Linked DNA regions of Homo sapiens. The protein of the gene in region 4 interacts with the protein of the main gene of each other region in a pairwise test. Each region holds a gene or a part of one and is shown on either strand. Other genes may lie near its edges.

The links.
Region 1: the proteins of EEF1D (region 4) and TPT1 interact in binary tests that used the Homo sapiens proteins (3 or more experiments, as listed by UniProt).
Region 2: the proteins of EEF1D (region 4) and VDAC2 interact in binary tests that used the Homo sapiens proteins (3 or more experiments, as listed by UniProt).
Region 3: the proteins of EEF1D (region 4) and ALX1 interact in binary tests that used the Homo sapiens proteins (3 or more experiments, as listed by UniProt).

Annotation. Positions count from the first base shown.
Region 1 is NC_000013.11:45,332,963-45,338,204, reverse strand, and holds the end of TPT1 (translationally-controlled tumor protein), read left to right. Parts: intron 1-595; exon of another isoform or gene 596-651; coding exon of another isoform or gene 652-729; exon of another isoform or gene 730-816; coding exon 817-819; 3' UTR 820-4,734; downstream 4,735-5,242. UniProt on the Homo sapiens protein: Involved in calcium binding and microtubule stabilization. Acts as a negative regulator of TSC22D1-mediated apoptosis, via interaction with and destabilization of TSC22D1 protein.
Region 2 is NC_000010.11:75,206,260-75,213,806, reverse strand, and holds the start of VDAC2 (non-selective voltage-gated ion channel VDAC2), read right to left. Parts: upstream 3,012-7,547; 5' UTR 2,869-3,011; intron 2,674-2,868; 5' UTR 2,649-2,673; coding exon 2,618-2,648; intron 2,326-2,617; exon of another isoform or gene 2,224-2,325; coding exon of another isoform or gene 2,148-2,223; intron 1,578-2,147; coding exon 1,509-1,577; intron 1-1,508. UniProt on the Homo sapiens protein: Non-selective voltage-gated ion channel that mediates the transport of anions and cations through the mitochondrion outer membrane and plasma membrane.
Region 3 is NC_000012.12:85,283,214-85,290,242, reverse strand, and holds part of ALX1 (ALX homeobox protein 1), read right to left. Parts: intron 6,672-7,029; coding exon 6,367-6,671; intron 3,391-6,366; coding exon 3,262-3,390; intron 1-3,261. UniProt on the Homo sapiens protein: Sequence-specific DNA-binding transcription factor that binds palindromic sequences within promoters and may activate or repress the transcription of a subset of genes.
Region 4 is NC_000008.11:143,587,416-143,594,444, reverse strand, and holds part of EEF1D (elongation factor 1-delta), read left to right. Parts: exon of another isoform or gene 1-549; coding exon of another isoform or gene 550-552; exon of another isoform or gene 553-1,784; 5' UTR 1,785-1,798; exon of another isoform or gene 1,799-2,233; coding exon of another isoform or gene 2,234-2,356; exon of another isoform or gene 2,357-3,837; intron 3,838-4,363; coding exon 4,364-5,454; intron 5,455-7,029.

The DNA.
Region 1 (5,242 bases), on a different chromosome or scaffold from region 4:
GGTTGCAGTGAGCAGAGATCCCACCACTGCACTCTATCCTGGGTGACAGAGTGAGGTGCTGTCTCAAAAAAATACAGTAGAGTTTAAATGCTGAAGGAGATCAGAGAACACCATTGATCTTCCTCTAGATATGGCCTCACTTTCACTTCATAATCATATTTTGCTGTATACGTATGGATCAGTATCAGTGGTTTTCACTTTGGTTTACTGATAATGGGCAGCTGATCATTGAAAAGCCTAGTGCAGTACTAGCTTAGTAAATAGAGCTGACTGCTGAACTGGTATGCAAATTGTTTTACTAATAATAAATAACTTGGTGTCTTCTATGGAAGGAACTGCTGGAAGCTGTACAGAAACAAAGGCATTCATTATCCTAGTTTTCATAGGCTTCTGTATAAGGAAGAAGAAAAACATAAAGCTATACTGAACAAGATTAGAGTCAACAGTAGACAGAAATTACTTAGAACAGTATAAGATGACTTACCAAAGGGGTTATTCAGACAGTATCTGAGGTTTTTGTTGGTAGAGCAGGGTGTGGGTGGTACATGCCACAGCCTTCTGAAAAATGAGCTACCGCTGATTTGGTAAGGGTGTTCTGCATCCACTGATAGACCTTGAACAATTTACTGTTGTTCTTTTGGTTTGCACTAGGATGCAAAAGAAAGAAATCCCTGCGCTTTCTGTCTGTCTTTGTGGCGGCCCAGATTGAATTGGGGAATACATCTTTAGCCTGGAAATGTAGGCTGCATGTTAATGGTAATGTAACTTTTGCAGTGTAATGTTTGAAAAATATTAATGTAGTTTTTGCTTTTACAGTAACAAATGTGGCAATTATTTTGGATCTATCACCTGTCATCATAACTGGCTTCTGCTTGTCATCCACACAACACCAGGACTTAAGACAAATGGGACTGATGTCATCTTGAGCTCTTCATTTATTTTGACTGTGATTTATTTGGAGTGGAGGCATTGTTTTTAAGAAAAACATGTCATGTAGGTTGTCTAAAAATAAAATGCATTTAAACTCATTTGAGAGAATGCCTTTTAGTTTAATGCATATTTAAACTAAATTGATCCTGTAGTGTTCCTGGAGAAGCTAGAGCCTGATTGTAGGCTACTACTCATCAATTAACTTCTACAGTGGAGACTACTTCTGGGACTGGAATATAAAAAAGAATCAAAGGTTCTGATTTTGAGTTGCAATAAAGGGAAAGACCATGCTCATAGCAGTGCCAACATCTGAAGTGTGGAGCCTTACCCATTTCATCACCTACAACGGAAGTAGTTAACTGGAAGAGATTACCAAGAGAATAAAAAGAGACTCATTCAGTGGAAGCAACTTTGTCTCAGCTTATTTCACATAAAGAGAGCGAAGTCTTTTGGGATGAATGTTAATTAAACTCCCTGGTAACTAGAACAGGGACTGGCAAACTAGCCTATCTGACCACCTGTTTTGTACACTTTAAGGTGGTTGGTTGCCTTTTTAAATGGTTGAGGGGAAAAGAATACCTTGTGGGATATGGAATTTAAGTTCGAGTCCAGTTTTATTGGAACGTGGCTATGCTTATTCATTTATGGATTGACTGTGGCTGTTGTCAGTGCATGAGCAGAGTTGTGTCTAACAGACTAGAGCCTGCAAGTTTGCCAGCCCCTGATTTAAAAGATGAAGGTACACAGAATGTGGGCTGGCTGGTGGGCAAAGGGGTAAAAATGTTCTCTATATTGTATCTGAAAAGATGGGGTGTCTGAATAAGAAAATGCATCTATTTGACAGACCTGGAGCAGTTGCTATCTGCTGCTATGGTTTCCACCACAGATGCAAGAAGAACATGTCCTTGCGCTTTCCGTCTGTCTAATTGTGGCAGCTGAGATTGAATAGAGGAATACAGGAGGAAAAAAAGCGGGAAGAGTTTTTGAGGCAGGTCGGTCACCCAGGCTTGTAGTGCAGTGGCACAAGCAACTCACTGCATTCTCTGCATCCTGTGCTCAAGCCATTTTCCCACCTCAGTCTCACTAGTTGCTGGGACTGCAGGCATGCACCCCTATGCCCAGCTAATTTTTGTAGAGACCGAGTATCGCTTAGTTGCCCAGGGTGGTCTCAACTCCTGGGCTCAAGGAGATCTGCCCACCTCAGCCTCCCAAAGTGCAGGCCTAGCCTGGGAGGGGAATTTTCAAAACGTGAGTTTTGGGAAATAGTCTATCAGCCTTACCTGGTTGATTACACTTGTAAAAGAAAGATTAAAAGCAGGCCAGTGACTCTGGTCTGCTTGAACATGTGAATGTAGTGGTTTGAGCAATCTGGAGTTTGCCCTAGTGTCAAATTCCAGACTGTCCATAGTGTCCAAAACCTGAGGCAGATACTAATGTTAACCCCCAGCACCCCGTGATTGGAAACAAACCTAAATACGTATTGGGAACTTAATAGCAATTTTAAGCATTCTGATAGATTTTTTGTAGGGATGGGGTCATGCCATGTGGCCCAGGCTGGTCTGAAAACTCTGGCCTCAAGTGATCTCAAGCTTTGGCCTTCTAAAGTGTTGGGATTACAGGTGTGAGGCATTGCACCTGGCTTAGCGTTCTGATTTGACATTGTAATGAAAAGTGTGAGTCTCATCTACAGGGCCTTTTGTCCTCTGAAATGATAGCAGGAAGGGAATTTTCAGGCAGTGGTCAAAGCTGGGGAAACCAGGATAGTGAAGAAGGCCTTGAGGTGAGAGATGGAAGCTAATTGGTGAACTAGCCTTGGAAGCCTGAAACAGACAAGTAGCAATTCAGAGACTTTGTGGGCTCCACTGCTCCAACTTGTTTTGAAGATTTTCAGTTCTGCAGAAGAGGTATTTCCCCAGTTGTCCTTTCAGTGCTCTTAGCTGTTTTCCCAACATCCAGATCCAATCAAGGCTGGGACATAGCATTTTATCATGTCTATTTAAGTCAGAAGTGATGAACCCCAGCTGTTTACCTCATGGTAAACCTTTGAAGATTCCAGGTAGAATCTTCTCAGACTTTGAAGACTGTCTCATTTTATATCTTTTTCTCGTTATTCCTAGGGTCAAGACGTTTTGGGCAAGAATAAGGATGTGAACATCAGAAAGCTCATAACATTTTGTTTTTGATGCTAAGTTTAACAAAGGCATGCTTTAGTAGCCTGTGGGCCCTAGGGTTTGTTAAAGTGTGGAGAACAACTGAGTGGAGCAAGAGGACTTTTCTAGGAAGGTCCTTGTAATGTGACATTTGAAAACAAATGAAGGTGTGGAAGTAGGCCATGTGGATATCAGGACAAACCATTCCAGGCCAAGACAACAGCAGTTAGTCTGGAGTGTGATGTGTTCTGGGAAAAAAGTGGCCACTTTGCTAACCCAAGAAGACAGGAAGGGTTGTAAAGCAGTGGGAGTGTGCAAGGAAGGAAGACCAGACCTCAAGGAAACCACAGGCGCTCTGAGCAGAAGAGTTACATGATATGACTCAAATTTTTAAAGGATCACTTTGGCTGCCAGGTGGCAGGGTAAAAGCATAGAATAATTGTGTATAATGTGTTTTTAAGGCAAAGATAGTGGCTTAGTCTAGGGTAGTAGACTGAGGTGGTAGGAAATGAAGATAGAGACAACAGGATATGCTGGTGGGTGAGGATGGATTTAATGTTGATACAAGTATTTTGGTCTGAGCGTTTGGAAGAAAGTTGGCACTGAGGTGGGAAGTCGAGTTTAGTTTTGTTAGTTTTGGATGTGTTAAGTTTGAGATGCTGATTCTTCAGAGAAGTCTAAGCTGGAGAACTATATAGAGAGTGGAAAGATAACAATAGACATTGAAAGCCATGATACAGGATAAGGTCATTTGGAGAGAGGATAGACTGCATTCCAACATGAGATTGGTTGACAAAGAGAAACCAACAAAGGTAATTAAGAGGTGCTCCCACTGCACTTGTACTCAGAAGGCTGAGGTAGGATTGTTAGAGGCCAGCCTGGGCACCACAGGGAGACCCCATCTCTAAAATTTAGCCAGGAACCATGGCTCATGCCTGTAGCCCCAGGAATTTGGGAGGCTGAGTGGGGAGGATCGCTTGAGGTCAGGAGTTTGAGACCAGCCTGGGCAACATAGGGAGACCTAAAAAAATTAATTGGGCATCTGTAGTCCCAGCTACTCAGGCGGCTGAGCTGAGAGGATGGCTTGAGTCCGAGAGATTGAGGGTGCAGTGAGCTGTGATCATACCACTGCACTCCAGCCTGGGCGGCAGTGAGACACTATCTGAAAAAAGTTTAAAAATTTTAAAAAAGAAGGAACTGCCCCTGAGGTAAGAACCAAGGGAGGGCCTCCCAGAGGTCAGGTGGAAAAAGTTTTAGGAAGGAGGAAGTAGTCAACAGGGTTACCTGTTGCAAAGTACTTAAGTAATATGAGGCCTGATAGTGGTAAACTTGACTACCGTTGGATTTCACTAGTGGGAAAGGAAGTCTAATTAAAATGCACTCAAGAGACTAACAGTCGCAGGCATGAAATACAATACAGGTACATGGTTTTTTATTATGTGTGCATCTGCTTCAGTAATAGGTGTGAATTACTCATTTGGATCATTAGGAGTTTCAAAATCTAGTTAAATGACTAGATTTTTGTTGATGTAAATTCTGTCATTCTGAACTGCAGGGATTGTCAGTAACTTAACTGCAAACTAAACTGGTGATAATTATGGTAAAATTGCAAGACGAGCAATAAATCTCAACCAACTTGAGAGAACACTGATAACAAAGCATCCTTAAGGTTATATGTGTGTGCACACAGGTGGAGTGGAATGACTGGCTGGCAGCAGAATACTCAGTAAAATGGAACTAAAACCAGGAGGATTTACTAATTTACAACTAGTATAGTGATCAGTAATTTACAACTAGTAGGTCACTACTAAAGAGCTCCAGCTTTGTGGCAATTAGCATGTGTTTCTAGAGACTATCCATAAGAACTGTGAGTGCAACTTGAAGTTTCTGGAAACATTTAATATTTCATTATTCCGAAGGAAAAGGCCTTGATTAAAGTGTTTTTAACATAAGCAAGTAAAGTAAAAGGTGCCATAGCTAGGCAGTGGCTCATACCTGTAATCCCAACTACTTGGGAGGCTGAGGAGGGAGAATCGCTTGAGCCCAGGAGTTTGAGCTTGGAGCGAGTTAATGGCTGCAATACTGCACTCCAGCCTTGGTAATAGAGGGAGGTCTTGTCTCTTGAAAGAGAAAGGTGCCACATACCTTCCATTGAATAAAAG
Region 2 (7,547 bases), on a different chromosome or scaffold from region 4:
TTTTTGGTAGTTGGTACACAAAAGAATGCTTTCAAATTATTTATTTATTTATTTATTTATTTTGAGACGGAGTCTCACTCTGTTGCCCAGGCTGGAGTGCAGTGGCACGATCTCAGCTCACTGCAACCTCCACCTCCTGGGTTCAAGCGATTCTCCTGCCTCAGTCTCCCGAGTAGTTGGGACTACAGGTGCGTGCCACCACGCCTGGCTAATTTTTTGTATTTTTAGTAGAGATGGGGTTTCACCGTGTTAGCTAGGATGGTCTCGATCTCCTGACCTCGTGATCTGCCCGCCTCGGCCTCCCAAAGTGCTGGGATTACAGGTGTGAGCCACCACGCCCAGCCCCCAAACTATTCTTAAACTTAAATATCAGATTAAAAAATCATTCAACTGAAATTTCAGAATAGCTAATAACTTATCATGATATGGCCAGGTGCGGTGGCCCACGCCTGAAATCCTAGCACTTCGGGTAGTCGAGGCAGGCAGACCACTTGAGATCAGGAGTTCAAAACCAGCCTGGCCAACATGGTGAAACCTCGTCTCTACTAAAAATACAAAAAAAAAGCTGGGCATGGTGGCATGTGCCTGTAATCCCAGTTACCAGAGAGGCTGAGGCAGGAGAATTGCTGGAACCCAGGAGGCAGAGGCTGCAGGGAGCCGAGATCACGCCCCTGTACTCCAGCCTGGGCAACAGAGCGAGATTCCGTCTCAAAAAAAAACAAAAACAAAACCAACTTATCATAATACAGACATTTAGGACATTTATGCCAATGGGGTATTTCCAACAGTCTAAATAAAGGGGAGGAGGGTATGGAACAAAATTTTCAAGAAAACTCAAATTCACCTGAAAAAGCTCATAACTCTAGATAAAGTATTAGGAGTCACCACAAAAGCAAAACAGTAATATATCGTAACTCTAGTCAACCAGGGCCTAAGCTATAACTGAAAAAAAATTAAAGCACGAGCCGTTTTTCTTAAAGGCTCAAATCTTCTAAGTACAGTTTTTAAAAATTTTGGGAAATTGGGGGAGGGGGATGTAGACTGTAAAAGAACTATTTTCACATAAGTTTAATCTAAGTATCTTAAGTTTCTAATAGAAGAATTAATACAAGGCTGGGCACAGTGGCTCATGTCTGTAACGTAATCCAACCAGGCTTTGAGAGGCCACTGTGTTTACTGGGTAACACAGTGAGACCCCACCTCTACGAAAAATAAAAAAAATTAGCCAGGTGTGGCAGAGCGTGCCTGTAGTCCCAGCTACTTGGGACGTGGGAGGCTGAGGAAAGATGATCGCTTGAGCCCAGGAGGTCCAGGCTGCAGTGAGGTATAATCATGCCACTGCATCCAGCCTGGGCAACAGAGGGAGACCCTGTCTCAAAAAAATAAGTAACTCTAAATTTAAAGCAGCAAGATATTTACAATTTGCAATGATTGATCTGATTTCGCTAAGCAACCCAAACATACATTTTCACTCTTTATCTAAAACGTTTTAAAAATAAGGTTCTTACCAAATCCTTTGTTGAAAATATCTCTGGCAGCTTTGCCAAGGTCAGCATATGATGGAGGAATACACATTGCTGGTAGAAAAAAAACATTCCAGTGTTAATGTCTCTATTCTCCCACCTTCTATCCAAGAACAAGAGCATGACCCACTGCTGATATTAAAATTCAAGCAATCCCATTTGTTGGAATGTTTTTTATGCGGTCAGGAGCTACAATAGAACTATAACGACCCATAAAGGAGATACCACCAACGAATTATTTCTAAAACAGATAACCATGATTATACAAACTTGGGGAATTCGTTTCAAAACGGAAAAACAGTCTATTACCTACAGCCTCACTTCCTAGGACTGGACAAGTACAAAGAATCAAACAAGTATTTGTGTGTATGGATATTTATGTATCTGCCAAAATTCACTGAGATGAGCTGATTTAACTAAATTAGATAAAACCGAAACCTAAGACTAGGCCCTTTACCCTGATACGTCCTTTAATATCTTCGCTGAGGGGAAAACCAACACCCTGGAGTGGGAAGAGAATTTAATACTGGGAATTTAAATATTGAAACTTGGAAAAAATACTGCCATGTGTGTTTCACTCAAATGTCTACATCAACTAAATATCAAATAGCGCTTCAAACTTACTAATGTGACTCTCAAGTCCTCGGCCAATGCTGTGCTGCTTAAGGGCAGGCAATCTGAGCTCATTACACCAGCTCATTCATTCCACAAAGCACGTCCACGCCCTTAGGAGCACAAGTAATGACCTTGCGCTCTCACAAGAGGGACTGCTACTTCCTCTAGAAAAGTGATTGATCCGATCCTCCAAAGGCAGAATCCCCAATTAACAACTTTTTACTTCTATACGTCAAAGACATGTACAAAGGCTGAAAAGTCCATGCGGCCACAGACCAACTCCCCGGGCCTTGTTCCCCATTTGAAATCCAGCAGCCCAGCCCCTCCTCCGCAGAGGAGGTGGTCAGACGGTGGGGCGACCACCAAAAGCAGCCGAATTTCCAAGTTCTTGGAAAGATAGGGGGAAACAAACTGGGTTTCTGGTCGACAGGCTTCGACTCTCCGCCGCCCCATCCCGCAGAGATCCCAGCTTTACTTACGACGCGCGCAAGTCTGTCCGTGGGTCGCCATGGCGAGGCCGCGGGAAGAGGGGAATCTGCGGGAGGGACAAGAAGTGCGGTAAGCTGGGGTCAAAGGGCCAAAGGGAGATCCCGGGCAGAGAGGGGCGAGGGGCCGCGGGGCAGCGCGGCCATCTTAGGAAGCCAGGGCCGACTCCGAGTCCGGCGCGGGCCTCCGGCTTGGCCGCCGCGGCCTAGGCCCCTGGGTCGGCGTGAGGCGGGCGCGGCGGTACCTGGTGGTGTCCTGAGGGGGGCCGCCGCCACCGCTCCGCTAGCTGCTGAAGCCGCTTGGCACGCTCGCGGTCGGGCTGCAGCTCCAGCAGCTGGAGGGCGAAGTGAAGGAGACACCGTTCCGCCCGCCGCAACCCTGTCCTCTCCCAGACAGGACCCCGCCGCTGCCCCCGGGGCTGTCCGCCGCGCCTGTCCCTGCAGCGCAGCCCGCTGCCAACTCCAACCTGCTCCAGAGCGGCCACGTGGACCGACAGCGCCCCGGTCCTGCAGGTGGGCTGCCTCCGTCCGTCGGTGGGGATCCGGAAGGCAGAAGCTGCTGGGCCTTGGATCAGGCAGCTATCCGGGCAGCCTCAGAGGCGAGGGGGCGGGGAACGGCGGAGGCAGCGCGCTGGGGACCGCCTGGGAGGGGGATGGGGCGGAGGCCCCGCGCGAACGCGTCACGGACGGGGCGGGGCGTCGGCGCGTGGCCGGGGCGATAGGGCGCGGCTGCGCACCAGGGTCACGTAGATCTCTCCTACTCCCCTTACGCGCTGGTGCGGGTTCCCCCCCGAAACAAAGCCCTGCATAGGGTGCCTGCGGGGAGTCAGCTGAGCGTTACCCACGTCCATCCTAAGCTAGCGCAGCCTGCGCTTCTGAGGGACCGCTTCTCTTTCCCAGCCCAGGGAGAACGAGTGGGACACAGGGGCGCCACCTCCAGCCCCTCGCGCTCTTCTGCCCTCTTTTCCCACCTTGGTGTGACTGCCTTGCTGTGCTGGGTTGTGTGCCTGAGAGGCTTTTTGGGACTGCCTCTCCCTGAACAAATGTGAGCGGGTCCTAGCGTGCCCCACCCATTTCCACGCCGCCTTACGCTTTCTCTTCCGCGGCTCCTCCCCACTCAGGCATGGCACTGCTTCACACACGCACGGAGCCGGAGCTTGGCGAGGCAAGCCTGCTCCGGGCCCAACCTCCTCTGGATTATGGGCCTGGAGAAAATGTGGAATCATGCTGAGCAGGCGTTAGAATGCCGCACCCGAGTTCCCCGGGTGTGCAGGAAGGGTGACAGAGCTATTAGATAAAATGTATATGGGAGACCGTTAGTTTAGACTGACCTCCTGCATTAGGCCCATCAGACCAAACCAAAATGGGGTTACTCATGCTGAAGTTTCACACTACCACGCCAAAGCTAGGATCTTTATCTGACCTTCCAAGAAATCAGGAGAGAAACAGATGCTAGCCAGATCCCCAAACAGGCTGGGCGCGGTGGCTCACACCTGTAATACCAGCACTTTTGGATGCCGAGGTGGGCGGATCGCCTGAGCTCAGGAGTTCCGGACCAGCCTAGGCATAGTAATACCCTGCCTCTACCAAAAAAAAAAAAAAAAAAAAAAAAAATAGCCGGGCGTGGTGGCTGGCGCCTGTAGTCCCAGCTAATTGGGAGGCTGAGGAGGGAGGATCGCTTGAGCCTGGGAGGTTGAGGCTGTAGTAAGCTTAGATGGTGCCACTACTGCACTCCAGCCTGCCCGCTGGAGTAAGACCCTGTCTCAAAACAAAAATCCCCAAACAGGTCAGTTTTAGCTGGCATGAAGAAGTCCCGTGTTCTTTAACCTTTACAAGAAAAGTAACTTTCTACCAACTAATCCACTTTTTGTTTCTGCTTTCCTCGGTCCTTTTCTGTCTGTAATACCAACTTCCTCTTCTCATTGGAACATTCATTCCATTTTACAGAATGAAGCGTTGCCCAATTGTAGAATTGGAACTAAAAGCCAGTTAAGATGTTTAAACTAAATTCTTTGTAATTTTTTCTTTTAACAGAGCCAAAGGAAAAAGAAAAAATGAGCAGTCTAATGAAATAGAAATGGGTTCAACTGGAACTCCCAAAGCAGTCATCTATCCAATAATGTCGCCGGTAGACCTCAGTGGTTTTTTTGGGTTTTCTTCTTTTTTTTTTGAGACGGAGTCTCGCTCTGTCGCCCAGACTGGAGTGCAGTGGCGCGATCTCGGCTCACTGCAATCTCCACCTTCCGGGTTCACGCCATTCTCCTGCCTCAGCCTCCCGAGTAGCTGAGACCACAGGTGCCTGCCACCACGCCCGGCTAATTTTTTGTATTTTTAGTAGAGTCGGGGTTTCACCATGTTAGCCAGGATGGTCTCGATCTCCTGACCTCGTGATCTGCCAGTCTCGGCCTCCCAAAGTGCTGGGATTACAGGTGTGAGCCACCGCGCTCGGCCTACCTCATTTTTTTAATCTATAAAATGACAAATGAAACGAAGTGATCTTTAATAGCCATCAGCCATAGTCTCTGAGCAAAGCCTTTTCCCCCTTGACTTTCTCTGGCTCTGAAAGCCATGTCTGCTCAAATGCTCTCAACGTTCTACCCTCCTCCTAAACCAGAAAAGGATAGGCTTCCACAGTTCAAAACCCAGATGAAAGCTGCAGCCTGGAAGATTTCCCTCCCATGAGCAAGCCCAGCCAGCTGTCTTGCCTGGTCATGACTGGGCTTACTCATGTTGCAAAAGGTTAGCAGAATTTACTTCTAAGACATCAGGCACCAGAAGCCCTCATTCATTCCTTCATTCGAGCTCAGACAGGTCGGTTTGCAGTCATCCTGGCTCTTCTGGGAAATAGTCTGGTATGTTTGATGTTATTGTGAGGCTAACAACAAAGACCGGCATTTCCATCCCAACTGCACCACAGCACCCTACCTCCCCGAAACACCCAGTCTGATAAATGAGTCACCTCCACTACCTGCAGCAGGGCTTATTCACAATGTGAATTTTCTGTAGCAATTTGTAGCCCCCTGCACTTCACTTTCTCTGTGGCTTCACCTTCTGCAAACCCAAGGAATGTACACAATACCTAATGACCAGGGGAAGAAGATCTGTGGCTAAACAGGGGAATAATGGCAGTTTTTTCCAGAGCTGAATTTAGTAAATAAATATGAGTGCTTACATCCAAAGTCCTTTAGACCAAAGCGGCATTAGTAGGTAGTTACTACCTACCACAAGCAACTACTTTGTGTCATCCACAGGGTAAGCAAAGTCCACTGAGACACAGTCCCTACTCTCAAGGCACTTAACAGTCAAGTGTGTGTAAAGATGTCAAGAACAGGGGAGGGTCCAAAAGTTTACCCTACTTGCAAACTATCAAGTTAGTCTGCCATAGTTTCAGAGGCTCACAGATGCTAGCAGAAGACATGAGACGTATGGGTCAAGGACAAAAGACTCTCTTACTTGTGGCCCAGCAGGCAGTGTAAGCTTCGTGTTTTGCCTCAATTCCCCCTGTCCTCTGTGTCCCTCAAGGATGATGCCAGAGCAGCTTAGGTGGATGCTGTGCACAGCATGCATTCGTGTCACAGCCAAGGAACCCTAAGCTTACAAAACCACGTGTCTTAGAAGGAGCTGCTAACAAATCTGCCCAACCTTCATACTGTGAAAGGAAAATATCTTGGGCCCCCAAGATCATTAAGCTAAAGGGAAAAGTCAAGCTGGGAACTGCTTAGGGCAAACCTGCCTCCCATTCTGTTCAAAGTCATCCTTCCGCTCACTGAGATAAATGCGTATCTGATTGCCTCCTTTGGAGAGGCTAATCAGAAACTCATTGCAACCATTTGTCTCTCACCTACTTGTGACCTGGAAGCCCTCTCCCCACTTCGAGTTGTCCCGCCCTTCCTGACCACTTTAAGTTGTCCTGCCTTTCTTGACCGAACCAATGTTTATTTTACATATGTTGATTGATGTCTTACGTTTCTCTAAAATGTATAAAACCAAGCTGTGCTCTGACCACCTTGGTTACATGTCGTCAAGACCTCCTGAGGCTGTGTCAAGGCTAAGTGTCCTCGACCTCGGCAAAATAAACTTTCTTTTTTTTCTCTTTTTGAGACTGAGTTTCGCTCTTACCACCCAGGCTGGAGTGCAATGGTGTGATCTCTGCTCACTGCAACCTCTGCCTCCTGGATTCAAGCGATTCTTCAGCCTCAGCCTCCTGAGTAGCTGGGATTACAGGAGCGCCACCACCACGCCCGGCTAATTTTTGTAATTTTACCACACTAAAGAGATGGCTGCTTTACTGTGTTGGCCAGGCTGCTCTCAAACTCCTGACCTCAGGTGATCCGCCCACCTCGGTCTCCCGAAGTGCTAGGATTACAGGCGTGAGCCACGGCGCCAGGTTTTTTTTTTTTTGCTTTTTGTTTTTTTTTTTTGAGACAGAGGAGATAGAGTTTCGCTCTTTCGCCCACACTGCCACACTGGAGTGAAGTGGCACAATCTCAGCTCAATGCAACCTCCGTCTCCCAGGTTCAAGCGATTCTCCTGCTTCAGCCTCCCAAGTAGCTGGGATTACAGACACCTGCCATCACACCCGGCTGATTTCTGTATTTTTAGTAGAGATGGGGTTTCACCATGTTGGCCAGGCTGCTCTCGAACTCCTGACCTCAGGTGATCCACCCACATTGGCCTCCCAAAGTTCTAGGATTATAAGCATGAGCTACTATGCCTGACCTGGCAAAATAAACTTTCTAAATTCTCAAATTTAAATTCTAAATTCTGAAATTTCTCAAATTTTCGGGGTTCACAATCCCTGAGGGGGAGATTATTATACTGCTCAGGAAATAAAATCTTTTCTCTGCCCCAGAGAGAGATACTATCTTCCAAGGCTGTTTGCTAAGTAAACATCCTTGGAAAGATAGTCTGAGACAAAAGCTGC
Region 3 (7,029 bases), on a different chromosome or scaffold from region 4:
TTACAGCTGTTGCTACTATAGTAAAAAGACGGCCAGTTGAAACAAAGTATTTATTAGAACATATTAGAAAGTATTAATTACTATATAGAAATAAACATATTATGCTTGTACATACTGAGCAGGCTTGAGGAGATCATTTTCTAAACTATCTCTGTTTTTCATGTATTTCTATGTATGGCTTTTCTTTCTGCCAAATTGCTAATTCTTTATTTCTGTCCTGCCTCTAACATTTTCTAGTTTCCAACTTTTCTGAAATTAATAATTTTTTCTGTAATTAACAGTCACCAAATCCAATGTCTTATTAGACTGAGATATTGGATTCTACTTCTGTTTCTATTTCTCCCATTACAAGTTCCTATTTTCAAGCCCCATGATAAAAAAAACATTTCATTTAGGCTAACTCTTGAGAGACATGATCTTGGCCCAATTATTTTTTCAAACAAACTAAAAAAGTATCTTGTATATATTTAAGTTAAAATAAAAATTCCCCCGGCTTTATCCAGTATCTACAGTGGGGAGTTGCAGCCACATAATTTCGGAAATTTTGGTAACCAAACATTAAATGATTTACCAATACAAGAAAGTACTATGGACTTCATGGTATTAATTTTTATTATTATTCATGATTGGCACTGTTGAAGTAATTCCAACATATGTTCTCCATTCTTAAATTATCAGGTGGTATAGCCAATGTATACAAAATTATGAGGAATAATTAGTGCAACATTCCCATGATTTGTGGGGGGAAATTTTTTAAATTAATTTTTCATTGGAGTGAAAAAGATGATCAAATATATAATTTGGTGTACCATGTCCGTTCCTCCATCGGTGTCTAGGTTACCTCATTCTTTTAATTAATAATATATAAAGCTTTGAGGTACAATAACACAATGGTAAGATAATCTTAGGGAAATGAGATGGTTACTCAGAGTACACTGAGTCATATTGAGCATTTATACATGTCTTAAAGCTGTATAAAGTTTTAGATTCAGAATATGCACTATTCTGAATGCTTTACCCTTTATATAGGTCTTAATTGATGCTAGGCCCTATTCTGATTGCTTTATCAAAGAAGCAAGAAGAGTCAAATATAAAACAACCAACGTACAGGGACAGAAAAGTTGAAAACAGACAGAAATGGGGTTTGAAAGGAAATGAAGACTGAAAGAATAAAATGCACAAAAAAGTAGTCATAGTCAAGTGTTGTGGAATATACTTAGTAAGAGTTTAAAATCCATGTGAAGAGCTCATAATTTGTTACTTTATTACGTCTAAAGTCACCACAGTCAAGTAGTTCAAAATGATATAAACCATTCTCCATTTCACCTATATTTTTATTGTTATTTCTCTGGTTGTGGCTCCTGACACTAAAGCGCAGACTTACAATAATGCAGCTCAAACTTTATGCTCCTTTGGTATCATTTAAATATATTCACAGGTAGAGACAGTCTATTGTCAGGTTAAAATCTGGCAAGTGGGAACCAAATTGTCTCTGGTCAAATCTGAACTTCACCTTACCTCTTTCTCATTTGAGCAATGGAGACAATTAGTAACACCTAGCACATAAGGTTGTTGTGAGGATTAAATGAGATAATATATGTAATCTGCTTAGAACAGTGCCCAGATATACAGTGAGGGCTACTGTAGTGTTAATAACCATGAAGACACTGCAGTCCCTGTCCTCATGGAGCTTGCAGCCTAGAGGGGAAAGATTTTTACAGAATTTTGTTTAGAAACTAACGGCACTCAAACTAACTCACACTGACTCAACTAAGGCACTCAAAAATATTTGGCAAACAAAATTTGACTAGCCCTATGATGGTAAGTAACCACCAGAGGTAGCCTCATGCTTTAAAATAGGAGAAAACATAAGGTAACCTCTTTAAGATAAATTTTAAAAGAGAAACAAGATTCCTCCTATGGCAAGGAGATAGGAGGCATTTATTGAAAAGGTATCCATAAGAATAGTCTTCTAGCAAGCCATTGGGTAAAGGTTTAGACGTAGCGACCTTTACAGTCTCTCCTGCAGGAACCCACTTGTATGATCACAAACCAATTCCTTAACTCAATTGAGCCCGTTTTCATAACTTTTTTAAAGGAAGGAGTTGAACAAGGTGACCTCCAAGACTTCTTTTATTTAACATATAATATTATATTAATAAATTTGGGGGATTTATCTGGAGGAGTGAGGTTTCTAAAACTGGTTTTTAAGAATCATAAAAGGCATAGGAACACAAGGAAAGAACAACATTAAAGAACTGAATTTGTACTCATAGTGTTGAAGAAAATGAATACTCAAGTTTGGGGTTCAGATCATCTAGTTAGTGAACTATCAAGGTATTTCTCCAGCATATATGTTTCATATGTGTTTTCACATGGGTCTCTTATAATGCATATCATTAAATAATAAATAACAAAATAATGCATAGCTCGTTGCTTATAACGTAGGTTTTTTTTCATCATGTATCAAATACAGTTCTGAATATCATTATTAAGTATTAGGAAAAAGTGACACAAAATAAATTAGAAAGACAAACATTTACATTCATTACAAAATATGAAAAAGAAATATATAGTCTTATATTGAAAAAGAAAAATGAGAAGAAAAAGAATTTCTAACACTTTTTGTAATGAAGTAAAAGAGCACCCATTATAAAGGGAAGCTGTTACTCATCTGTGATTAACTTTTAAAATTATGTCTGATACTAATTCTATCTCTGTTTTAAGTCAAACAGGACCAAATGTGGACCTTTAGAGAATAAGCAATTTGAAAACTGAAAAAAAAAAAACATAGAAAAAGAGACACATTTTTAAATGGAGTTAAGGGCTTAATAGGCCACATTTGACATCAGGTTTTAGTATAGTTCATAAAACAATATCCACAGAGATTGCATGCTAAGCAACACTCTATTTACAGTATTTTTAAAAGTTAACAAAAGGAAGAGAGTCTGAGTAATTAGAATGTAGGATAATTAAAATACCTGTATCATTAAATGATGCTATTTCATTGGTGGCAATATACAACAAAATTCAAAAGAAAAAAATACCCTGAAATATTTTTAAATGAATGACTCTGTAAGAAAACAACAAGAAAATAATTCAGAAAAATTAAAACTTAGCAGACATGAAGAATGTTTTCTGAAGCTTAGATTTTCATTCTTGGCTATTATCTTACATATAATAAAGCCTATGCTAACCATTTTAAGAATATACAAACCAAATATCCTTTTCTTGATCAGTATTCTGTGTAGTTTAGCATACCTGTGGGTAGCTGTCAGTCCTTGGCAAAACTGATATATCATAGGTGGCAGCAAAATGGCTTTTCGCTTGTTGTATTTGGCCATAACGTTCCCTTTTTCTCCATTTGGCCCTTCGATTTTGAAACCAAACCTAATTATTTAATAAAAATTAGAATTTTAGCTAAGGAATATTTGATAAAGCAAATGTGATGTTAAAAGACATCAAACAAGAAAGGTAAACCAGGTTAAAAAAATTACGTAAAAAGAAATGTATTTATGTTAGAAAAGGATCCACAGATTTTACTTTTTCTTGTATCTTGATGTGGTAAGTGATTTTCCCATGAGACAAAATAATTTAATAGAAAGAGGCAGGAGACTTTCGGGAAATACATCTGATACGTCTGAGCCTCTGTTTTCTCATTTATGGAAAACAAAAAGCAATTAGATTATATGATCCTGAATACTCCATATATCTCCACATTGTCATGGATAAGTCTCCTTTAAGAGAATGCTGCAAGTCTGGAAGATGTATATGCCGTAACGTAAACTCAGTCAATCTATAAGCAAATTAATATCTGAGTCTATTAAAACTTATCTTTAAAATATATCACAAAAGTGAAAGCTCTTCTCAGTTGTGCTCATACCTACATAATCTTTTAAAATTTTAAACATAAAGATTACACCTAAATATATGGCAGCAGCAGGAACATCATGATTATCTAGAAATAGGAAAAAATGAGATTACATATTATAATAAGCATGACAAGAATTATAGGTAAAAAGGAATCATCTAAAGTTGAACTATGGTTTTAAAATACGTGAATGTGCTTATTACATACATTATGCAACTTATTTTCCCTTATGAAAATGCTCGGATATCTTTACGTAATTTCTCTAATTTAAAGCACAGGTAATGGAAATAATATAAGAAATAGGGCAGATAGAACCAAGTGTCAAGAAAGTCTATCAGTTACTGTGGCAGCTAAGGTCACTAAGCTATCTTCCACAATTTCTCTAATTACCTATTAGAAGTATTTATTATAAGAACCATCTTCCTCAGCAGGTTGGATATTCATTAATTCATACCTGTAATATTCCAATATCTTCACTTTAATATTAAAGGGAGATGCAGAAGATTATATTCAATATATATACTTGGATGTTTTTAAATGAACATTATAGGAGTAGCTTTTGGGAATCTAGTCTTCTTCACACAATTATGTTCAGAATATAAAATATTTAGGAAAAAGGCTAGAAATCAAATATAAAAAATGCAAGTTGTAAAAGCCTTTTGTTGAAGTTTACTTGAAATTTTCACTCTTTTTCATACTCAATTCTAATCTTGTATATCTTTACCTTCACCATTATGGCAACATATTAATACTCAGTTTAATTTTTTAGTACACATTACAAATTTAAGATGGCACTTTGCAGAGTTTTCAGCAATTGAAATGAGCCAGAGAGCTACATGTTCATTATAGTTTTAGTACACTGCTGATAAATGCATATTATCCATTATGCCAAGGCTCAAGACATCAACAACAACAAAAAACAAATCAAATTTTCTTGCTGTCTCCGCAGATGAGCCCCAGGAACACACTAAGGGAATTTAGTAATACGTTTTTGGGTTTTATTTTTTTTTCCATTGACAAAAAGAACTTGACAATTTCCTTAAAATGAGTAATAGTTACCACTCTTATGTGCAAAGCAGGAAAGAGAACGACCTGAGTAAATTAAGTTCAAGTTGGCTCTCTGTGCATGTTCTCAGACAAAAATTAATCAAGACTTGGTGAATGTTAAGGGGAAAAGATGCATTATGTACAGTTGGTCACTCTGTGTGCAAACATATTTGTTTATGGTTACAAGTATAACTAATTTAAATATAGACAAAGACAAAAATCTCAAACTTACACAGCGGGTGTTAATACTCGACAATTCTAAAATTCTTTGTTAGCATGAACTTTCTACATATTTACTTCCTGAACCAAGATAAAGTAACCATTTGCTTCCACAAACTCAAGTAAAAATCTGCTGCTTGTTATCCGTGTGCCACCAGATGTTGTCTCTAATGATGTAAGAGCCTTACAATTTTAAGAAGAAATACCGTTACTCGATTTAGAACAAAAATTTTCACTATTTTATTCATTCCCCCATTTTAGCAGTTTATGGGAATTGCAAAAATCAATACTTTTGTAGAGGAGTCAGAACACACACAAAGACCAAGGCCATTATCCTGAATTATTGTTGCATTTTAAACTCTTACTACTTGGAAACTAGTAAAATATAGTTTAAGAATATCAAATGTAGTCAAAATAAAGTACTCCTAAGAGGTAAAATTTTACCTGGTATGATTTTTCTTTCTCAAATTATTTTTAAAAATTAAGCATATTGGATCATCCAATTTAATAACTAGAATATATCTTATAAACATAATTGAGTATACACAAAAATTTACTTTAAAGCCATTATTTTTATTGCCTATGCAAAATTCATATGATTTATCTAGACTTTAACCATTATAATGGAATATTTACATGTTGACAACTACTAGGACTATAAAATTGTAAATGAGCACTATTTGATCTTGTTTTTAATTATCCATAGTGAAAACATTCCATGGTATACATAACAATTGGGAATTTGTGGGATTGTTTTTTTTTTTATTATGCCTCCAAATCTAGAAATTTCTAGATGTATGGGCTATTATACAAATAATTTACAAATACCTGATATATAATCTAAAAAAGAACCTTAGTGGCTAATAAAACCGAAAAAAAAAAAACAAATAAATATACCAATTACTAAATAGTCATGATTCTGCTTTTCATCCTTTAAAAACTGCTTTTGAAAATCAGAGATATATTATCATATTGTTATGTTTGAATGATTGTTAATTTTTATGTCTCTGTAATAACTTGTGTTCTTTTGTTTTACATATTGCGTGAGTTGTCAAAATTTTTGCAATTAAAAAATAATTTTAGTAGACATATATTCATATATATTACTCCGTTTCTCATCTTCAGCTAGGGAATCAGTTTGTTTCTTTGTGGCAAAATGCACTTATTCAATTATTCTAACACCATTTATTTTCCTATCCCATCCATCAAGGCCTCTTTTTGGCTCCTACCTGGACCCTGGCCTCAGTGAGCTCTGTCCTCAGAGCAAGCTGTTCTCTGACATACACATCCGGGTAATGAGTTTTCTGAAAGACTTTCTCCAGCTCCTCTAGCTGCAAACTGGTGAAGGTGGTTCGGTGCCTCCGTTTCTTACTGCTGGATACATTGCTATCACATTTATCCCCAAGTTCATCCAGCTCTCCCTTCTCTTGCATCCCTTTCACGGGAGACATTCGGAGACTGTTACAGTTGTCCATAGCTCTATTCAGTTCGGTGTGAAGGGGCTGTCCTTCTACTTTAGTGATCCCATAGTTCACTGTACCCAGAGGAGGAAAAACAACAGTTCTCAGGATTGTGAAACTCATCTCAATTAAATCAATAAGTAGAAGTAATTGAGAGTATCAAGAAATTGGCCTATTAATAATTTATTGTGCTAGTATTAATTCAATTACCACATTTCTATACTTAATTCATTGTAGGACAGGTTTAAATACCATTTTAAAATGTGTTCATGCAACTGCTATGATCTGCCAAAATCCGCAGTTCTATTTTACAGGATTTATAAGTTTATGCACATGTTTTTTACTTAAATTCATGTACTCGAATTAAAAGATGATCTGGGTGTTTCATGAAAGAAACTTTAAGTGTCCATGATTTTTGAAAACTGAAGCAAA
Region 4 (7,029 bases):
CCCTGCCCTCCTGACCTGGAGTGTTCTGGGTAGGAGTCTGCCGGGGCTGCTCCCAGGACAGGGACAGGGGAGGCTGTGAGGGCCATGCCGCTGCAGTGGGTCTTGCTGGCTGCCACCTGTGTCACAGGCCCTGTTAGCTGGGTGGAGCCTTCCAGAGCCAGGACCCCAGGGCACTCTCAAACTCTGGGCAGCTGCCAGAGGCTCAGGTGCTTGGCAGACACTGTCTACCCCTCAGGGAAGAGCCTTGGTGGTGAGCCTGGCCTGCTTCCAGGAGCAGAGTAGGGACACTTTGGCCACTTCCCCCTGGGGCCTGGCTCTGGCGTTTCCAAGACTGCTTCTCTGGCAGCCAGCTGTCTCCCTGTGTTCTCTTTAGAAAGCTCCTCCTGAGCTTGGATAAACTGCAGGAGCGAAGGGGCTGACCGTTTGTCGGGACGCAGTTGAAAGAGTCGCTGTGTCCTGCTCCGGGCTCTCCTGCTGGAGAGGAGAGGCTTGCACGTGCCTGTCGTCTGCGCAAGCTTTGAAGCTCAGACTTGGTCTCTGTTAGGAGAGATGGTGCGCTGCGTCCGGCAGGTCCTCCCATGCTTGGGAATGCGGGAAGCGGGGAAATGAGGAGGTGGGCTCGGACGTGTGGGGGGCTGTGCTGGCTGTCCTGGGAGGCTCTCTGCCCGCTGTTAGTGGCCAGCTCCCCAGGTGACGGGCCTGGCCTCCAGGTCTCCAGCATGGCTTACTGTGGTGTCTCCTGAGGGCTTCCTCTCTGCAGGGAAGCCCACCCAAGATCCCTCTTACTGGTCCCATGGGGCAGCTGCCTCCGTAGCATCCTCGTCTCCACCAGACCCCTGCAGGGTGCCCAGTTCCTCCCTGCAGGGTGCTCCCTGCTGCAGTGTGGGGTGCACAGAGGTGGGCAGGGCCCTGGGGCCGGAGCTCCCGTTGGTGAAGGAAGACGGATCCCAGCCAGGGCTCTCGGGTTGATCAGCAGTAGGAGGTGGCCCCTCCTGCCCAGTCCCACCCAGGACATGGGCTGGTGGCTGGGCTTTCAGCTGTGCCCAGCTGCCCTTCGCAGAGCTTGCAGGGTTTATGAGGTGGCTCTGGTGAGATTAGGGGCAGGACACCTAGTGTCTCCAGCCGAGGAGTGAACTGGGTGGAGGTCCTGTCCTTGTGTGCACATTGTGGGAGAGTCAGTCTGGGAGGCCTTTGTAGCTTGTGCTGGGGCCCTTGGGTGCCAGCCCTGTCTTGACGGTGGCTCCTGCTGAGAGAGAGGCCCTGTATTAATGTGAGCCCTGGGCTGCCTCCCCCTTGAGGGTCCTTGTCATCTTCCGGGCCTCCTTCAGCAGACCGGACACAGGGGCAGTGCAGGTGAGGGGCTTGGGGGAGCTCCTTGGCAGCTCCAGGGGATGCTTGTGGGCGCTGGCTTATCTTGTCTCAGGCTACCTTGCTCAGGTGACGACAGGGTGGGTGGATTTGGGAAAGGTTGGCTCAGATAGTGGTCCCTGCTTGTCCCCCAGGGCCTGCCTAGGCTCCAACTGACAGTAATCCCAAGAGCTCCCCTTTCAGGGGATGACGGAGTGACGTCACCTGTGTGGACTCAGCTGCCACCTGGGATTGTGGTGGCGGCGGGTCTGTCTGGCGCTCAGCTTCCATCTCCACCAGTGTCACCTCCACACCACCTCGCCAAGCAGCTTCTGGAAAGGCCCCCGGCCGCCCCGGGCTGACCTGCTGCTGTGTCTGACCCGGTTAGTCTTTCTGGCTGCCTCTAACCTTGCTGCTTTTCCTTCATGCTGTCCTAGGAGGCCAAAGCAAAGTAAGTACTCGCCTGTCCTCATGCCCCATTCCCCTTCATTTGACCGGGGAACCCCCAGCCCTCGCTGCACCTGAGGGAACCCAGCACCACCTGCGCATGGCCCAGTCTGCCCAGAGGGCCTCAGTTTCCCATCTGGAAAGTGGAGGAATTGGGTTTTCTGGATGGGGCAGCAGCAGGTGGGCACCCTGTGTGGCCGTGAGCAGGGTCCTGTCCTGGGCTGGCGGGTCAGCAGCTGACATGCGGCTCCCTGCAGGGAACAGGTGGCAGTGCCAGGTCTCGGTAGGAGCCTTGAAGTGGCTTCCCCTCCCTGAGCGGCGGCTTCTGCCCGGAGCCCCCAAGAACATAGTCTGAGGCCACTTTGGCCAATAAAGTCTGGTAGGGCATCAACACTGGGGGCCAGCTCAGTGGCACTGCTGATGGGACCTGCACGGCTCCATGGGAGCAGAGAGACTGGTGGGGGTACCACCGCACGATGTCACAATGCCCTGTCTCCTGGGCTCTTGCTCCCACCCCACCCCCAACCCACAACCCCTGCCTCTGCCCATCAGCCTGGCCTTGGTAAGTGCTGCCCCAGCCTGGGGAAGGAATGAGCAGGGGAGCCTAGGGAGCGTCTTCATGGGCCCTGTGGCCTCCCATGGGCCCCGGTTCCTCGTTGGTGCCATTAGAACTTGTTGCTGGGACTGCGGGATTCGGGCCACATGCCCGCAAAGAACTCCATGTTCCACTTAGAGGCTGCAGAGTGCAGTGCCAGGGGTGCCTTCCCAAAAGTCCTCCCTGCCTGGGTGGAGCGTAGACAGCTCAGCACCCCACGGGGGGCGTTGGAGCCAGCCTTGGTTTTGTTGGGTAAGGATGTTAGAAGAGGGGCGAAGACCCATAGCCACTGGTGTGAAGGGTCTGCTCTTGACCGAAGGCTGCCTCCCTCTGGGTGCAGACCAGGCAGGTGGTCCCAGTCACGGTGCCCTGGGGCCACTGGGTCTGTCTGCCCTCAGGCTCCACTAGACACACCTGCGGAGGCAGCAGACTAGCAGCGGTGTCTGTGAGGGGCAGCTGCACAGCCCCCTCTTGAGGGTGCTCCTAGGCGTTGGTTAGGCCCAGGCGTTTCTGCTTTTGGGGAGCAGAGCCTGGAGTCGGGCATGGCTGGGGAGGAAGCTATCGCAGGCTGAGCGCGGGCTGGGGTGCTGACCTGCATCCCAAGAGCAGATTTGCCCCTGGCCTTCTGGGCCTGTCCTTTCTGTAACACCACACTGGACACCTGGGAGCAGAGCGTGCCCCCGGCAGGATCCCACATGGCTGCTGGAGCACTGGGGCAGCAGGTGACTGAGGTCGCCCAGAGCTTGAGGGAACACCTCATCCAGGGAGGAGGCTGAGGCTCCCAGGCCACAGTAGCAAGTGGGGAGTGGAGCCTCACAACCTGCCTCCCACCAAGATGGTCCCTCTTAACATTACACAGAAGCAAAACCTTAGAGGGGGCCCTGATGTCCTGGGACTGTGAGAGCCCCATGATTCCCCTTTAGCTTGGATGGACCCAAAGGTATGGACTCCAGCTGGGAGGCGGGGGCAGCTGATAGAGAGCCTAGAGCCGTCTCAGTGCTCCAGGCGCTTGGCCCCTCCTTTCTACACAGTGGTCACCAGCATCCTCCCTGGCGTCTCCTTCATGAGTGGGCACTCCACCCTCTGCCCGGCCACCTGGCCCCCTCCTGGGGAGGACAGTCAGGCCCACAAAGAAGCTCCCTCTTTTTTTTTCTTTTCCCCTGCTCTGTTGTCCAGGCTGGAGTGCAGTGGCGCCATCTCGGTTCACTGCAAGCTCCGCCTCCCGGCTTCACGCCATTCTCCTGCCTCAGCCTCCCTAGGAGCTGGGACTACAGGCGCCTGCCACCACGCCCGGCTAATTTTTATTTTTATTTTTAGTAGAGACAGGGTTTCAACGTGTTAGCCAGGATGGTCTCAGTCTCCAGACCCTGTGATCCGCCCGCCTCGGCCTCCCAAAGTGTTGGGATTACAGGTGTGAGCCACCGTGCCTGGCCGAGGCTCCTTCTTTTGTAAGAACTTTGAGGGTGCTCTGGGTGTGGCAGTGGTGTGGCCAGGACAGCCACAGAGACCGTTCTGTAGAATGGGAACACCAGCCACCATGGTGGGGTGGCCAGGCCTGGCCTGTGGAAAAATGCAGGGAAAGCTAGTTAGCCAGTTAAAGCTTATTTCAGATAAATGACGAAAAATTTTTAGTGTAAGTATGTCTCAGATACTTCATGGGCCATACATTCACTAACAAAATTATATATTGTTCATGTATTGGGAGGCACTTGGCCTCCCAGAGTACTGAGATTACAGGCATGAGCCACTGCGCCCGGCCTGTTTTCTCTTCACAACAAAACGTCCCCACATGGGCTTGACTTCGAAGTCCTCGAATGTCATCTCATGGAAGCCCCACTGGGGAGCATCCTCAGCCCCTGCCCAGGGAGGGCAGCCACGGGGAGGGCGGGCACGGGGAGGGTGGGCACGGGGCTGCGGCCACCCGCTGTGTTGCAACTCTGCCCTCTGCTTGCTTTTTATCGCTGTGTCCGGAAGATGAGGAGCGGGAAGGCCTCCTGCACCCTGGAGACCGTGTGGGAAGACAAGCACAAGTATGAGGAGGCCGAGCGGCGCTTCTACGAACACGAGGCCACACAGGCGGCCGCCTCCGCCCAGCAGCTGCCAGCCGAGGGGCCAGCCATGAATGGGCCCGGCCAGGACGACCCTGAGGACGCTGATGAGGCGGAAGCCCCTGACGGCGGCAGCAGGCGTGATCCCAGGAAGAGCCAGGACAGCAGGAAGCCCCTGCAGAAAAAGAGGAAGCGCTCCCCCAAGAGCGGGCTCGGCCCCGCGGACCTGGCCCTCCTGGGCCTCTCGGCCGAACGCGTGTGGCTGGACAAGTCACTTTTCGACCAGGCAGAGAGCTCCTACCGCCAGAAGCTGGCAGATGTGGCTGCCCAGGCAGCCTGGCCTCCTGCCTTGGCCCCTTGGGGTCTCTGCACCCATGGAAACCAGGTGGCCTGCCACCACGTGACCTGGGGGATCTGGGTCAACAAGTCCTCCTTCGACCAGGCTGAGCGGGCCTTCGTGGAGTGGTCTCAGGCCCTGTTGCTGGCCCCCGACGGCAGCCGCAGGCAGGGGACTCCCAACACAGGCCAGCAGGTGGCCGTCCCCGACCTGGCCCACCAGCCCAGCCCACCGGTCAATGGCCAGCCCCCGCTGGGCAGCCTGCAGGCACTGGTTCGGGAGGTGTGGCTGGAGAAGCCCCGGTATGATGCAGCCGAGAGGGGCTTCTACGAGGCCCTGTTTGACGGCCATCCCCCAGGGAAGGTGCGCCTGCAAGAGCGAGCCGGCCTGGCCGAGGGTGCCCGGCGGGGCCGCAGAGACCGGCGGGGCCGCAACATCTTAGGGAACAAGCGGGCCGGGCTGCGACGGGCCGATGGGGAGGCCCCCTCTGCCTTGCCCTACTGTTACTTCCTGCAGAAGGATGCAGAGGCCCCCTGGCTCAGCAAGCCTGCCTACGACAGCGCCGAGTGCCGCCACCACGCTGCCGAGGCCCTGCGGGTGGCCTGGTGCCTCGAAGCTGCCTCCCTGTCTCACCGACCCGGTCCTCGGTCTGGCCTGTCCGTGTCCAGCCTGAGACCCAAGTAGGAGAAACGTGCTGGGTGGGCACCCAGCCTGGGCTGTGGGCACAGGGACAGCCATCCCAGGCTGGGGCTCCTCCAGCTTCCTCCCCTGCCCACCTGGGGTGGGGGCTCCCCGAGACCCGTGGGCCCAGCAGAGTTGAATGCAGGAGCAGGCTGAGTAAAGGTGGTGCTGCGCTTGTGGGTTCCAGGGACACTGCTTGAGGTTACAAAGTTCCAGGCTGCCTGGATGAGGGCAGGGAAGGGCTCAGCACAGGGCAGAATCTCTGCCTTGCCCAGGGTCCCTCTTTGGCTGGGAAGCTCCCCAAGTCCCCTGTGGCTGTCACATGCCAGGGCTGAGAAGATAAGGCTACTTATAGGGGCGGGAAGCATTGAAGCTGGTTTCTGGCCCTAGCGCTCCCCTGCGATGAGATGTGGGAGCCAGTGTGTCCCTGCCTGTCCATCCTGTGCACCCCCAGCTTTCCTTGTCACCTGAAACCACCTCTGAGGGAAGGTGGTGGCGTCTCAGATGCATGGGCATGTGGCTGGTCAGGTGGCCTCCATCCCAGGGTGCCCCGTCTGTGTGACCTCCCTCTGGGTGCTGTGGGCTTGCTCCAGGGTGCAGGTGCAACCCCAGCAGCGGTCTCTGGGGCCAGGCAGGTGGGTGGACGATTGGACTTGGAGGGGAATACAGAGGGCATGGAAGTGGCGAGGCTGGCCTGTTGGCGAGGGTGTCCTGGTGGTGGGGCGGGCTGAGTCAGGGAAGGACTCTGAAGGTCCCAAGCAGCTGCTGAGGCCCCCAAGGAAGTGGTTCCAACCTTGGACCCCTAGGGGTCTGGATTTGCTGGTTAACAAGATAACCTGAGGGCAGGACCCCATAGGGGAATGCTACCTCCTGCCCTTCCACCTGCCCTGGTGTTCACGGTGGCCTGGTCCCTCCTTGCCGAGAGAGTGTCCTGGGTCAGGGACGCAGAGGACGCTCACAGACTCCAGCCCTTTGTTACCGAGAGGACACTTGGCAAGGTCCAGCGATGGTCCGGAGTCCACACACAGACTGGCGGCAGGGCAGGAGGGGGACAGTTCTGTTGTGCTTGGTTGGACAGTAAGAGGGTCTTGGCCAGTCCAGGGTGGGGGGCGGCAAACTCCATAAAGAACCAGAGGGTCTGGGCCCCGGCCACAGAGTCATCTGCCCAGCTCCTCTGCTGCTGGCCAGTGGGAGTGGCACGAGGTGGGGCTTTGTGCCAGTAAAACCACAGGCTGGATTTGCCTGCGGGCCATGGTCCCTGTCTAGGGCAGCAATTCTCAACCTTCTTGCTCTCAGGACCCCAAAGAGCTTTCATTGTATCTATTGATTTTTACCACATTAGCAATTAAAACTGAGAAATGGGCCGGGCACGGTGGCTCACGCCTGTAATCCCAGCACTTTGGGAGGCCGAGGCGGGTGGATCACCTGAGATCAGGAGTTCAAGACCAGCCTGGCCAACATGGTGAAACCTTGTCTACTAAAAATACAAAAAATTAGCCAGGCACAGTGGTGTGCACTGGTAGTCCCAGTTACTCGGGAGGCTGAGGCAGGAAAATCGCTTGAACCCAGGAGGC